Linked DNA regions of Homo sapiens. The protein of the gene in region 1 purifies or fractionates together with the protein of each later gene. This does not show direct contact. Each region holds a gene or a part of one and is shown in the gene's direction. Other genes may lie near its edges.

What was found.
Region 2: the proteins of SYT3 (region 1) and FNDC3A purify together in Homo sapiens (affinity purification with mass spectrometry; 2 studies listed by BioGRID and IntAct, with this or other methods). This does not show direct contact.
Region 3: the proteins of SYT3 (region 1) and KLHL13 purify together in Homo sapiens (affinity purification with mass spectrometry; one large-scale study listed by BioGRID and IntAct). This does not show direct contact.

The regions. Positions count from the first base shown.
Region 1 is NC_000019.10:50,629,522-50,634,365, reverse strand, and holds part of SYT3 (synaptotagmin-3), read left to right. Parts: intron 1-1,554; coding exon 1,555-2,080; intron 2,081-4,194; coding exon 4,195-4,582; intron 4,583-4,844. UniProt on the Homo sapiens protein: Ca(2+) sensor involved in Ca(2+)-dependent exocytosis of secretory vesicles through Ca(2+) and phospholipid binding to the C2 domain.
Region 2 is NC_000013.11:49,205,898-49,210,741, forward strand, and holds the end of FNDC3A (fibronectin type-III domain-containing protein 3A), read left to right. Parts: intron 1-1,183; coding exon 1,184-1,498; 3' UTR 1,499-3,882; downstream 3,883-4,844. UniProt on the Homo sapiens protein: Mediates spermatid-Sertoli adhesion during spermatogenesis.
Region 3 is NC_000023.11:118,109,481-118,114,324, reverse strand, and holds part of KLHL13 (kelch-like protein 13), read left to right. Parts: intron 1-4,844. UniProt on the Homo sapiens protein: Substrate-specific adapter of a BCR (BTB-CUL3-RBX1) E3 ubiquitin-protein ligase complex required for mitotic progression and cytokinesis.

The DNA.
Region 1 (4,844 bases):
CTTCCTGCTGTGTGTCCCCTAATATAACTGGACACAGCCATTCCACTCAGCTGTCCTTGCCGGCAATGGCCTAGCTACCTGCTTCCCCACCATAACCCACTGTCTGTCAGGAGTAGGGATTTTCCCTGTCTTTCACTTTGTCAACACCCAGAAGTCCATTTCAAAACAAATTCCCATTCCTTGAAGGTCATTTCTGAAAAACCCCACTCCTGGTACCAATTACTGAAGAAGCCTAAAACCTTTGATTGTAAGAACAATTCTGTACTTGGGTTTCTCTGCAAGGCATATCAGCACATATGTGGCATTCAGAATGTGTTAGCTATCTTGTTGATGGTGTTGGACGCACATAGTGGCAGCAATAGGATTTATTATTCTAATAAAAATTCACATTTGAACTACCATTTATTGGGAAGCGTTGAGGTGTGATAGCATCATAGTAAAGACCATGGGCTCTGAAGCCAGGCTTCCCAGACTTAAATCCTGACTCTACCACCTACCAGCTATGGACTTTGAGCAGGTAACTATGGGTATACAGACCTCAGTTTTCTTTTGTGGAAAACAGGGATAAATATGTTGCCAACCTCATGTAGTGCCTGGCAGGCTTAAATAACCTGATCTCTATAAAGTACTGAGCTATTTGGTATGTAATCACCCCTCAAGATATGTTTGTTATTATCTTCCACATGTGATTTACCTTCTGCATTCCTTCAAACTACTGTAAGAGGGAAGAACTGATTTTTCCTACTTGGAAAATGGGAAATGTAAGGTTCAGAGTGGTCAAGATATGTTCCCAAGGCCACACAGCAAGCGTGATTTAAACCCTGCCCTGCCTAACTGTGTCGTGCAGGGTCCATGCTTCCTTGACCATCTCTGAGCATTTTGGAGGACCTTGGTGCTACCTCACATGTTGTGTTCTATTATAGAGAGGCAGCAAAGTCTAGTGATTAAGAGAATAAAATCTGGAGAGAGACTGCTGGATTCAAATCTCAGAACTGTCATTTATTACTTGTAAAACCTTAAACAAATCACTGAATCTCTCTGTGTCTCAGTTTCCTCATCTTTAAAATGGTCATATAGAACTACTGGGCTGGGCACAGTGGCCACATCTGTAATCACAGCACTTTGGGAGGCCAAGGTGGGAAGATTGCTTGAGGCCAGGAGTTCGAGCCAGCCTGGGCAACATAGCAAGACCTCATCTCTACAGAAAAATTTAAAAGTTAGCCAGGTGTGATAGCACATACCTGTAGTTCCAGCTTCTTGGGAGGCTGAGGTAAGAGGATTGCTTGAGCCCAAGAGTTCGAGGGTGCAGTGAGCTGTGATTATGCCACTGCACTCCAGCCTGAGTAACAGAGATTCCATCTCTTTAAAAAAATACAATACTTAACCTTGTAGAGTTGTAGAACATAAATTAAGTAATACATGTAAAGTGCCTGGCACTTGCAATTGCATGGACAATTGCATGGCAAATATGAAGGGTTAACTCTTTGGGGACAGCAGAGGGAGGATGTACTGTGACCCCATCCTGACCCCTACCTCTGTCCTCGTTCTCTCCAGACATCTCCGTGAGCCTGCTGTCGGTCATCGTGACATTCTGTGGCATTGTCCTTCTGGGTGTCTCTCTCTTCGTGTCCTGGAAGTTGTGCTGGGTGCCCTGGCGGGACAAGGGAGGCTCGGCAGTGGGCGGTGGCCCCCTGCGCAAAGACCTAGGCCCTGGTGTCGGGCTGGCAGGCCTGGTAGGCGGAGGCGGGCACCACCTGGCGGCTGGCCTGGGTGGCCATCCTCTGCTGGGCGGCCCACACCACCATGCCCATGCCGCCCACCATCCACCCTTTGCTGAGCTGCTGGAGCCAGGCAGCCTGGGGGGTTCTGACACCCCTGAGCCCTCCTACTTGGACATGGACTCGTATCCAGAGGCTGCAGCAGCAGCAGTGGCCGCTGGGGTCAAACCGAGCCAAACATCCCCTGAGCTGCCCTCTGAGGGGGGAGCAGGCTCTGGGTTGCTCCTGCTGCCCCCCAGTGGTGGGGGCTTGCCCAGTGCCCAGTCACATCAGCAGGTCACAAGCCTGGCACCCACTACCAGGTGAGAGAGGATACTGGGTTGGGGGTCCACTCTGAACTTCTGCTCCTCCTCTGTGTCTCTTTCCTATCTATAGCTCTTATGAGTTCGGGATTTGGAGGGGAATCGGGGTATTGACTCCTGGATCTTAGGGAAAGAGGAGGCTGGGGCCCTAGACTCCTGGATCTGAGGGAGGTTGGGGCTGTGGGGTCTAGACCCCTTGGACCAGAAGAAGTAGGGGACTGGGGGCCTGAATTCCTGGGTCCAGAGGGAGGAGACTGGGGGCAGGACTTAGGACAGGAAAGTAGAGGAGAATAAGGTTGGATCCCCAAGTCCCCTGTGGCACAAGGCAGTTCACCCCCTTTCACCCTAAGCCAGGATTGGTAGTGGGACCTGGAGTTCCTTCATTCATTATTTCTCAATATACATGTAAATGTATATTGAGCACTGATATAAACTAGGCCTGAGAGGGGTGTTAGGAAAACACCAGACTCTGCCCTCCTGTCACTCACAGCGCAGGGGAGGCGACCCCCAGACTGGCTGTCCTGGTGTAGCCAGGTTGGTGAGACAGGAAAGCGACTCAGGGAACCGCAACTGGGAGAAGGCTGGGAGCTTCCTGGAGGTGGAGATGTCTCAGCTGAGACCTGCAGGCTGAGGGAGAGTTGGGAAGGCAAAGAGGCAGGGCTGTGACCTGGGCATTCCAGGTGAAAGGAGAGGCCCAGGCAAAGACAAGAGGAGAACGAGATCCTAGTGCATTGTGAGGACAGCCCACACCAAGGGGACAGCCAGGGCACCAAGCCTTAGTCACCAAGGCATGAGAATAAGTTTGAAAAACGGAAAACTTCAGGCTGGGCGCAGTGGCTCATGCCTGTAATCCCAGCACTTTGGGAGGCCGAAGTGGGCAGATCACTTGAGGTCAGGAGTTCGAGACCAGCCTGGCCAATATGGTGAAACCCCATCTCTACTAAAAATACAAAAACAAACAAACAAAAATAGCCGGGCATGGTTGTGTGTGTCTGTAATCCCAGCTACTCGGGAGGCTGAGACGGGAGAATCTCTTGAACCTGGGAGCCAAGATTGCACCACTGTACTCCAGCCTGGGCAGCAGAGTGAGACTCCATCTCAAAAAAAAAAAAAAAAAAGAAAGAAAGAAAAAAGAAAAAGAAAACTTCAGAGATGTGACTACAGACACCAGACCACATGGGGCTTTGAGTGCCCGCCTGAGGGTCTGGGACTTTGTCCTGAGGGCACTGAGGAGCCATGGGAGGGCTGTGAGCAGGGGAGGGGCAGGCTCAGCTCTGGGTGTAGAAGGAACCCTCTGGGGCCATATGGGAGTGGGCTGGAGGGAGACACTGGAGGCTGAGAGTCCAGGAGAGGACAAGGCCTGAGCTGTGACCAGGACAGTGGGGATAGAGAGGAGAGACAGCCGGGGAGATTAAGAGAAGGGCAGAAGAGCGTTCAAAGAAGGTCTGCCAGGGGTCCATGGAGAAGCATCCTGGGTCACCAGCTTGAGGTCCAAAAGAGGTTACTGGAAGCTGGTTTATGCACAGGTCTGGGCTGGAGCTAGCTTTGAAATGGGGAGAATGAGGCTGGGTGTGGTGGCTCACACCTGTAATCCCAGCACTTTGGGAGGCCGAGGCGGGCAGATCATCTGAGGTCAGGAGTTTAAGACCAGCCTGACCAACATGGTGAAACCCCATCTCTGCTAAAAATATAAAAATTAGCCGGATATGGTGGTGCATGCCTGTAATCCCAGTTACTCGGGAGGCTGAGGCAGGATAATCACTTGAACCTGGGAGGCAGAGTTTGCAGTGGGCCGAGATCGCGCCTTTGCACTCCAGCCTGGGTGACAAGAGCAAAACTTCGTCTCAAAAGAAAAGGAAAGAAGGAAGGAAGGAAAGAAGGGAGGGAGGGAGGGAGGGAGGGAGAGAAGGAATGCCCCCCAGATACCAATGGGGAATCTGAGGCTCAGAGAGCACAGTGGCTTCCTCAAGCTCACACAGTGAGCAAAGGAGGGGACTTGTGGCCACCTGGCTGGGGGATGGGGGGAAAGGCAGGGAGGAGTCTCCCAGGTCTCTGCATGCAGTCGAAGATCAGAGCCACTGACCTCACCTTGGTCTCCCCCCAACCCCCTACAGGTACCCAGCCCTGCCCCGACCCCTCACCCAGCAGACTCTGACCTCCCAGCCGGACCCCAGCAGTGAGGAGCGGCCACCTGCCCTGCCCTTACCCCTGCCTGGAGGCGAGGAAAAAGCCAAACTCATTGGGCAGATTAAGCCAGAGCTGTACCAGGGGACTGGCCCTGGTGGCCGGCGGAGCGGTGGGGGCCCAGGCTCTGGAGAGGCAGGCACAGGGGCACCCTGTGGCCGTATCAGCTTCGCCCTGCGGTACCTCTATGGCTCGGACCAGCTGGTGGTGAGGATCCTGCAGGCCCTGGACCTCCCTGCCAAGGACTCCAACGGCTTCTCAGACCCCTACGTCAAGATCTACCTGCTGCCTGACCGCAAGAAAAAGTTTCAGACCAAGGTCCGGAGCAGCGGGCTGGACACCGGGTTCCCACAGAGAGGGAGCTAGGGCTCTGGACTCCCGGGTCTGAGGGAGGAGGGGCTGGGGGCCTGGACTCCCGGGTCTGAGGGAGGAGGGGCTGGGGGCCTGGACTCCCGGGTCTGAGGGAGGAGGGGCTGGGGGCCTGGACTCCTGGGTCTGAGGGAGGAGGGGCTGGGGGCTGGACTCCTGGATCCTGTGGAGGAGGGGCTTATGGGCACGGTGTCTGTCTCCTGTCGCCCAC
Region 2 (4,844 bases), on another chromosome or scaffold:
AGAGATCTTACTTTACTTTGAGAGCAAAGCAATATGTAAAAATTTAGATTTACATCACAGGTACAATTGAGGCAGCTAAAAGTACTTGAAAGCCCCCATGTGTTGGTTCTTCTGACTTGTAGCCCACCAACTAACTGGAGAAACTCAACTGACAAGTCATTTAACCCTATGAACCTTGGTTTTCTCAATTACAGAATGAGTGGTGGGAGGTTGCTCATTATTGGAAATGATAGCTCCTACAGATTGAGCAGTGACTGCATGCTGAGCACTGCGCTAAGTGCTTTAACAAGCATTAGTTCATTTCATCCTCATAATTATCATACATGTTAACTACTAGTATGTCTGTTATACTAAGGTAGTTGGTCTAAAATCACATCTGGAGTGTGAAGTGGTAGAGCAGACCTTGGATGCCAGGGGTGAACAGTTCTAGTATATAGCTTCTTATTTATGCCTAGTGTTCCATTATTGGAACACTAAGCTTGTGGTAGTTATTTATATCTCACTGATCAAGGTTATTGCCAAGGTCTGATTTTTCACAAAAAAAAAATTTGCAACCTCTGGCATAAATGGGTTAATTACTAGCACATTCCTCTGAAAATCCGTGGAATTTCATTCTTTTTATTTCCCTTGTGAGGCATGGCAGAGGAGGTCCTATTTTCTGATTCTAAGTGATCTCCCCTCTCTGGTTTATACAGTGATTTGCCATAGGCACCTATAGAAAGCTCCCCTTATTCATTTTCCATTTCATTGTACAGATATGTTTGAAATTATATGGAAATTTATCAGTTATACAAAGACATAATGGGGGAAGCAAAAGTAGACACTATCCCTTCTTTGATGGAATGATTGCATTGAAAAATGACTTCTTACATTTGAGAAAAGCAAGAAAATGCTTGAGGACCGATTTTGCTTGTTCTCTAGCTGCCCTGGGGCACATCTGCACTCCTTAATTCATCTGTGAACCGTATAAGGGTAGATCCTCGCTTTTGAAATTTCTCTTGCCCCTATGCAACAAACAGATAAGTACTTTAATGGACAGGTATTTTTAACATGTCATTTAAAAGATAAAATCAATGGCATTCACTGGCTTTCACATGAAAAACAATTCTAACACTAGCCAGTTTTAACACATTTTCTGTCCAGCCTTCACACGTAATTCTTCCTTCTAATATTTTATTAACAGATTTACAAGGGTCCCGACTCTTCCTTCCGGTATTCCAGCCTTCAGCTGAACTGTGAATATCGCTTCCGTGTATGTGCCATTCGCCAGTGCCAAGACTCTCTGGGACACCAGGACCTCGTAGGTCCCTACAGCACCACAGTGCTCTTCATCTCTCAGAGGACTGAACCACCAGCCAGCACCAACAGAGACACTGTGGAAAGCACAAGGACCCGACGGGCACTGAGTGACGAGCAGTGTGCTGCCGTCATCCTTGTGCTGTTTGCTTTCTTTTCCATTTTGATTGCCTTTATCATTCAGTACTTTGTAATCAAGTGAAAATATAACTTTATTTTTTAACTCTATTACATTTTATTTTGTCATGTACTAAAATTATTTCTGTATTGCTTTTATAAAAAACAGTGGCATTTAGCACTGGCATTGAGACTATAGCACATCATTTTTGCCATTTTCAGTGCTTATATTGTTAGGTAGAGGCTGGCACTTTATTAGAATGCAAGCCACAAAAATATCAATTTTGTTTTTTTTGTTAGGGTGGGTCTTCTTTTTTTCTTTCCCTCTCTCTTTTTTTAACAAATGCCTTCTTATAGAAAAACTTTCTAAGAGGCAACAATTTAGAATGGATATTTTGACGAATCGGCATGAGTGTAACAGTGATAACCTGATCTGTTTGTTTTAAAGATTATTACCAAGTGAAAAATTCAGAATGAATAGAATTTACACTAACATGCTATATAAAATGTTAAAGTCTGATGCTGTGAAAGCAATCTAGTGCTATATTTCTACCTCCTCATTTGTCTTAATTATTTGGTAAGTGGGATTATGATGAGTAACTGGAGGGGCTTAGAAACAAAAACTGGATGAAAGAGTATGCATGAAGAAAAGCTTCTTTGATAAATGTGGAGTTCTTCATTATAAATATATATTCATGAATTCACAGATAAGTACTTAAAGAACAGACAGTTTACTTGGCCTAAAAATATTTTGATGTTTACTCAAAAAGTACCTCTTCAGGTCTTGAGAACATGGAAAAGAATTGAGTGCTTTTAAATACTTTTTAGAAAGTAATCATAAAAGTAAATTGAATTTCAAACCTATTTGGCTTCTGTTTTGTGAACCTTTGAACTATATGTATGTGTATAAGGGTATACACATACATATATGGCATATAACAAGTGTACACATATACACATAACAAGTGTAGAAGTATATATTACATACATACACTCACTCTGTCTGGTATAGGCTAATTTTGAAGAACTCCCATAAGTTTCTGCTGCTTCTCCCATAACTGCTGCCACCACCATCAGAATTCATAATCAAACCTAACCTTTTTGTTTGGGGCACCAAATCTGAAGACAAAATTAATTTGCACCAGTAAACTTCAAGCTGCTTTCTTTCTTGAAAACTAAACGTTTAACGTATAATGTCTGTTTGGATACTGTTCCAAATTGTTGATTGCATGTGGTTAATGTTGCATTAGAGCACTTTGCAATTGCATAATTCATTAATGTTTTGTGAGCTTGCATTTGTGAGTTATTGGATGATCAGACTGAATTTTGTCAAGTATCACATTGTACATCTTGCCTAGATGTCGATGACTGCAAGTAATAATACAGTTTATAATGAAACTATCTACAATTCTTGTTTTAGCACATCTGTTATCCGTAAAACACCTGTAACTAGCTTTTTTAATTTATTATTTGAATTTTAGGATAGCGAATCACTAATTTTTAGTTGCTGAGGTTGGCATTTTAGTGATTATTAAGCACTTCTGTCAGTCTTTGAAAAAAGAACGTATTTTTTGTGCTTTGAAGATCTCTGAAGAATTTCTTTTATAATAGAATGGGCATGTATTGTAACAGTTTTATGTCAAATGATCTGTGCTGTAGAAAAACATTAACCCTTGTTCAAAAAAGAAATGGATAAACTTGGCCTTTCTAAGTGGTAAGAATGACCTGTCACTATAATATACTGTATGTTTACATTTTATTTAAATTTAATCTCTTATGTATAGGGTGATAACCTTCCCCAGAAACAACAGTGATTGCGATTGTTTTCTAGAAACTTCTTTAAAGTGCCACATTTGGCAGTACAAATGAGTCTGAGTGTAATAGCCCAGAGATTTATATATAGTTGAATGTCTAAAATGGTAAAATGTGCCACTGTGTCAAGTTACAGTGGCTTATGTTTTTCATAGTAATTCAAATGAACTTCCTATTTTTGATAGTAAATGTCATTTAATAGTATACTTGCCATTTGAGCCTCACTGCAAAATTAGTGCAGAGGAGAAAACAATTTTTAATGTAATCTTGATTTTACCTCATATACTGTACATTCCAAAAACTCTAAACTTTTTAAAGATTATAGATACACTACCAAACATATCACCTTAAAATTGTATAAGGCTGAATGAACTTCATACAAATGAAAAAAATCTCATAAAAATACATAAACTATGTAGCAAAAGTATCTGTAAAATCCATGGAAAATAAAAGTTGTATCATTCTTTTTGAGATACGTTTATTGTATTCATATATATTCATTATTTGCTACCTGTTTAAGAAAGTGAAATGTTATGGTCTCCCCTCTTCCAATGAGCTTAAAACATTTTTCCCAACAGTATATAAATCTTCAACATGAGAGGATGTATATTTATTATATAAAGCCCAGTAAAGAATAAAATTAGAAGTTTTATCCTAGTGACTTGATTTTGTGCAACTCATGAAATATCTTACTTCCTTTCCACATATAAAGAATACAGTGAGTCTAAGGTAAACTTCCCAGTGGGAAGAAAATCCCTAACCTCTCCTTGCCTTTCCCACATCCCTATTTTCTAGTACCTTCTTTCGCCCACCACCAGAGGCCCAGAACCTTCCTGGTAGTGGCACTGCTGGGTCTGCCTTCCACCAGAAAATCCAACATTCTCTCACTCATCCCCCATTAAAATTTCCATCCCAAGAACTTCCTCCTGGGGATGGACACTCAGTGCCTTTTTTTTTTTCTTTTTTTAATGGGTAAGCTAGTAAATTTTATGTTATAAATATTTTACCACCATAAAAAAATCATTGAAAAATTCACTGAAGAAGCCAATATGGAAAGAGGAGAACTCAATGTTTAAAATAAAGCCAACTTTTTTTTTTTATTCAAGAGGTAAGTACATAGCTTCAAGCTCAAGGTCTAGGTTGAGGACAATCATGAGTCCTATTAAAGGACAACCAGTTTAAAGAACACTGTCAGGCAAGCTACCACGTAGCTCTCCTTCACTCCAGGCTTAGCTGTTCCAGACTTCCCAGTACTGATGAAGGATCATGTTTTTGTTCAGCTTTGCCCAGTGCTGTCATTCATAATAGATAAATGAAAAGTCCCAGAAACCTGTTGTGTTTGGGAAGGTTTTCTTTTGTTCCAGGCTTCAGTGGTTAATATGCTTGACAAATTTCAGAGTCTCTATCTCTGTAGACCAATGCCAAAGAATTGCTTTCTGGATTCACTGTTAGCAGCTCTTCGTCTTCATCTTTGGCAATGTAAGAAAACCACCATATTCTGGCCCCCAGCCTTCACAGCCACAGTGGAGAATTAAGTCTAGGGCAAAATCAGCCTTGCCATGGTCACGAATTAAAAGTGTGGTGACCAGTCTTCCAACGCCTCAGTTCCCTTTGGCATG
Region 3 (4,844 bases), on another chromosome or scaffold:
GACTGGATATTTCTGATATTACTAAATGTAACTGCACTTACTTATTGGATTATCTTCTTTCTCATTTTATGTACATTTCAAATTATGCTTCTTCATGTAATTTGACTTGCAGTAGTGAAATGAGACTGACCAATTTTCAAATTGTTTGATTTTTATTGATGTTTGATAAACCACTAAAACCTCTTGAAAATATTTTTTTCTTAAATCCACTGATTGAAACCGATGTATTTTTATTGCTATGAAATAATACAACAAATTTCCAGGAATTATTTCAGAAAATGTGGAAAGACTGTAGAGAAATGAATAGCCCTAGAGAAAATATCTCAAAATTATAAAAATGGCTTTCTCAAGTTACTGATATTCATAACAATCAGGTTTTTATGTATCATTCATTCATTTACTAATTCATTTTACAAAATCTACTGGGTACTTGTGTGCCAAGGCCCTGTGTTAGGCACAATGATAAACCTTATAAGGCATGATCTTTGCTCTTGTGGAGTATCACAGTGCTTATATTCTACCAGAGAATACAGACAATAAACGAGCAAACAAATGAAGAAGATCCTTATAGACTGTAGTAAGAGCAATGAAAATAAGTAGGGGAATATGATACAGATAGCTAGGAAGGGCCTACTTTAGTGTGGGAAGTCAGAAAAGGCCTTTCAGAGAAGATGATTGAGCAGAGACCTGAAAGAGAAGAGAGAATAGGCCTACCTTGTCAGGATCTGGGAGAACATTCCCGAGATAACATTCTTGCAGAGAGAAGAGTAAGAGCCAAGGCCTTGAGGGGGGAAAAAGAGACTTGGCGTTTTTGAAGAGCAGAAAGCAAGCCAGCATGGCGGATTAAAGAAGATGTTACAGAGCCTAGAAGCAGCTCAATAACCGATAAATAGGACTTGGAGGTCCTGAGAAAGAATTTGGGTTTGATTCTCAGAACAATAGGAAGCCACTGAAGAGTCTTTCCTGGGGAAGGTCATTGGCTTAAAAAAATTATCCAGGGAAATTTAAAAAAAAATGTTTTGCAGAGGATAAATAGAATGTCTACTCATTCAGTCATTTATATTAATACCTGAGAATAAAAAAAACTCTATGATCAGTATGCTAAATAATCATGTAATTCGGTTCCTCTACTCTGTTTAGGTAAGGGGATGGGGGAATGGGAACCCTGAGGTGAGTATGTTAAAAGGCAGTTTACTTTCCACTGTCACATTGTGACTTGTGCTACAAGGTAAGTTGTCACCAACTTTATTAAAAATCAGATCATTGTTCAACTTAAGAATTTATTTTTCAAAGAATGATATCTTATTTTCTCATGGAAATATGTTTCCTTTGGAAGGTTGGAAATTTTATTTTGTATAAAGGAATAACCTAGGTTTTAGAAAGGGCCTTTGGAATTTTAAGAAGGGCTTATCATTTTCTTTTACCTGTTGCCTCTCCAACATTTTCAAATGGCCATACCTTTATTCCTTGAGAGATTAGGGTTACTGTGTTTCCTGAGGCTTAAATGAATTTATTGCCCTAAGCCCTTCCTTGAAAGCAATCCAGCTTTGAGGTCTAGTTGGTCCCAAATAGGAATGCAGATGATTATTGACATTCCATAGGAGTAAATCCTAATATTGTGGGGGAATAACCTGCAAAATAACCTTCATCAGTGCCTGCAGGGTCAACTTGATTTGATCCCAGCCTACTTTCCCATATGTCCTTATTATTCCCTTTCACAAATCTCTATTGGTTTAAACTGATTTTCCCCAGTTTGGAACTTTTGTGCTTAGCATTATTCCTGGCATAGAGTACGTGCACAGTGGGTGCTTGTCAAATGGATGCCATGCCTTTCTTTTTTGTCATTTCAAATTCCAGGTCCTATTACACTATTCCCCATTGAACTAGATCTCCCCCTCTGAAGGTGAACAGCAGTCACACACTTGCCCTGTTGTGTCATAATTATGCTTATTTGATGCCTGGCCATCTCCCCACTTGCCTCTGGCTTCATGAAGGCGACCTAGACCTCATCCGGTTTGCTCATTGTTGTATTCTGAGCACCCAGCACATGGTATGCACTTTATAAATAGTTATTGAATAATGAATAAATACTGTCTTGTGATGTTTCTCCTATTAATTTTTTGATGTTAGATCATTTAATACTGTTTTACTTTTCACGTGTTTGGTGTTCCGAAGTGGTTTCTGAGAGAGGTTGTAGAGCATACTTGTTAAGAGCTCAAGCTCTGGAGCTAGGCCACCTAGGTTTCAATTCCAGCTAGGAGACTTAATAGTTGTGAGACACTGGGTGAGTCAGTAAACCTCCCTGTACCTCAGTTATCTCATATGTAAAAAAGGGGTAATAGAACTTGCCTCTTATGGTACTTGCAAAGATTACATGAATTAGCTAGGCCCACTTTTTCTTTTCTCTTTTTCTTTTTCTTTTTTTTAGACGGAGTCTCGCTCTCTCACTCTATCGTTCAGGCTGGAGTGCAGTGGCATGATCCCGGCTCACTGCAACCTCCGCCTCCTGGGTTCAAGCGGTTCTCCTACCTCAGCCTCCCGAGTAGCTGGGACTACAGGTGCGTGCCACCACGCCAGGCTAGTTTTTTGTATTTTTAGTAGAGACAGGGTTTCACCATGTTAGCCAGGATGGTCTCGATCTTCTGACCTCGTGATCCACCTGCCTCGGCCTCCCAAAGTGTTGGGATTACAGGCGTGAGCCACTGCTCCCGGCCTAACTTTTTATTTTTAGTGGAGACAGGGTTTCACCATGTTGGCGAGGCTGGTTTCAAACTCTTGACCTCAGGTGATCCACCCACCTCGGGCTCCCAAAGTGCTGGGATTGCAGGCATGAACCACCTCCCCCGGCCTAGGCCCACAATTTGTTTGCAATTTTTAAATTTCTAAAGCTCTGAAAACTGAAAAAGATTTTATTTGGTAACTTAGATGCCAAAACTCATGTGGTGGCAAAACCTGACTTAAACTGACATAGGGTATTTATAGTCTTTATTCTACTTAATGTTGATCTTTATTTTGTTTTGCTATAGAATTACTAATATGTTTATGGGGTTGCACCATAGACCCTAATGGTGTATTACATAACATATGGTATATAAAGTATATTTCCTGTCTAAAGGTCTGGACATTTCTAAATTCAGAAACACATCTGGCACCAAGATTTTTCGATGAGATTGTACACCTTGCAGTAAACTGCTTAAATCAGGGCCTTGCACATAGTATGTTGTTGCTGTGGGTGGTGGAGATTAGGGAGGTAAATAAACTACTTTATCTTTCCCAATAGCTTGCTCATAATAGTTACCATGTAAATATATACTGATTTACTCATGCAATAACTGTAAATAGAGGACTGGCTGTGTGGTTCTCATGTCATAGGAAAATAGATATGGCAGGGTCATGTAATTGAAATGAGCCAAGACTCGTCTGTTAGTACTCTCATCTGGTACCATTCAGAGCAGTTTAGTTTTTGTTTTTCTGTTGTTATTTAAACCAACCTATGCTTCTTTAGCACAAGAGAGTCTTTTGTGGGGGTGGGGGTAAGAAATTCAGTTAAGAACTTATTTAATGTGATTAGACACTTATTTTTTTGCAGTTGTTGAACATTTATTGAACTGCTAATGTGTATAGAAATCTGTATTAAGAGCAAGAGAAGGCCGGGCATGGTGGCTCACGCCTGTAATACCAGCACTTAAGGAGGCCGAGGCGGGCGGATGATAAGGTTAGGAGATCGAGACCATCCTGACCAACATGGTGAAACCCTGTCTCTACTAAAAATACAAAAATGAGCTGGGCGTGGTGACATGTGCCTGTAATCCCAGCTACTTGGGAGGCTGAGGCAGGAGAATCGCTTGAGACAGGGAGTTGGAGGTTTCAGTGAGCCAAGATCGTGCCACTGCACTCCAGCCTGGTGACAGAGCGAGACTCAGTTTCAAAAAAAAAAAAAAAAAAAAGAAAAAGAAATAGAAAAGTAGAAAAGAGAAAGGTAGAAAACAAATGAGACATGATTCCTGACCTTCCTTAGCCCCAGCGCCCTGCATGGTTACATGGGGACATGAGTGTGCGTTACAATTCTTTATTTTCCTCTGTAAACTTGACATCATTAAGATTAAAAACATGCAAAGGAAAACCCAAGAGTTAATTGAAAACTCTTCTTAGCGTCCATGATATGAATTGGGTTTTAATTATCCTAACACAACCCCCCTCAGTATTATCTTTATATAACATCTTGACAGCCTTTTCCTTTCTAACTAAACTAAAACAACATGGATTTTCTTGTTCTTTACCAATACACAATTGGTGTATTTTCTTTTGTTTTTGGTAGAGATGAGGTCTCACTATGTTGCCCAGGCTGGTGTTGAACCCCTGGCCTCAAGTGATCCTCATGCTGTGGCCTCCCAAAGTATTGGGATTACAGGCATGAGCCACTGTACCTGGCCTGTTTTTTTTTCCTTCGGTTTTGTGGGGTTGCCAGTAATTACATGTCTCAAAGGATTTTTTCTGCAGTTTTCTTGCAGTTGAAAACTAGTCCTTGAAACTATTCTGCCAATTCATTCAACAAATACTTATTAAGTGCCTATTATATTCCAAGCATTGTGCTAGTCTAAACAAATAGAATCTCTGTCTAGTGCTCTTTCCATTACTTTGGGTCCTTCAAAGTGGAGCACATGTACTGATTGAGCAGGGTGGTGACAAGGTGGTGCTCCCAGGAGCCACAAAATAAAGCAGCTTGTATTTTCTTGAAGCATCTGTTTTACACAGAGATTTAGGAGAACATTAACTGGTAGCTATTTAAAAATCTTTAAACAAATTCAGATACATTCTGCCTTAGAACGCAATATTCATAGAAA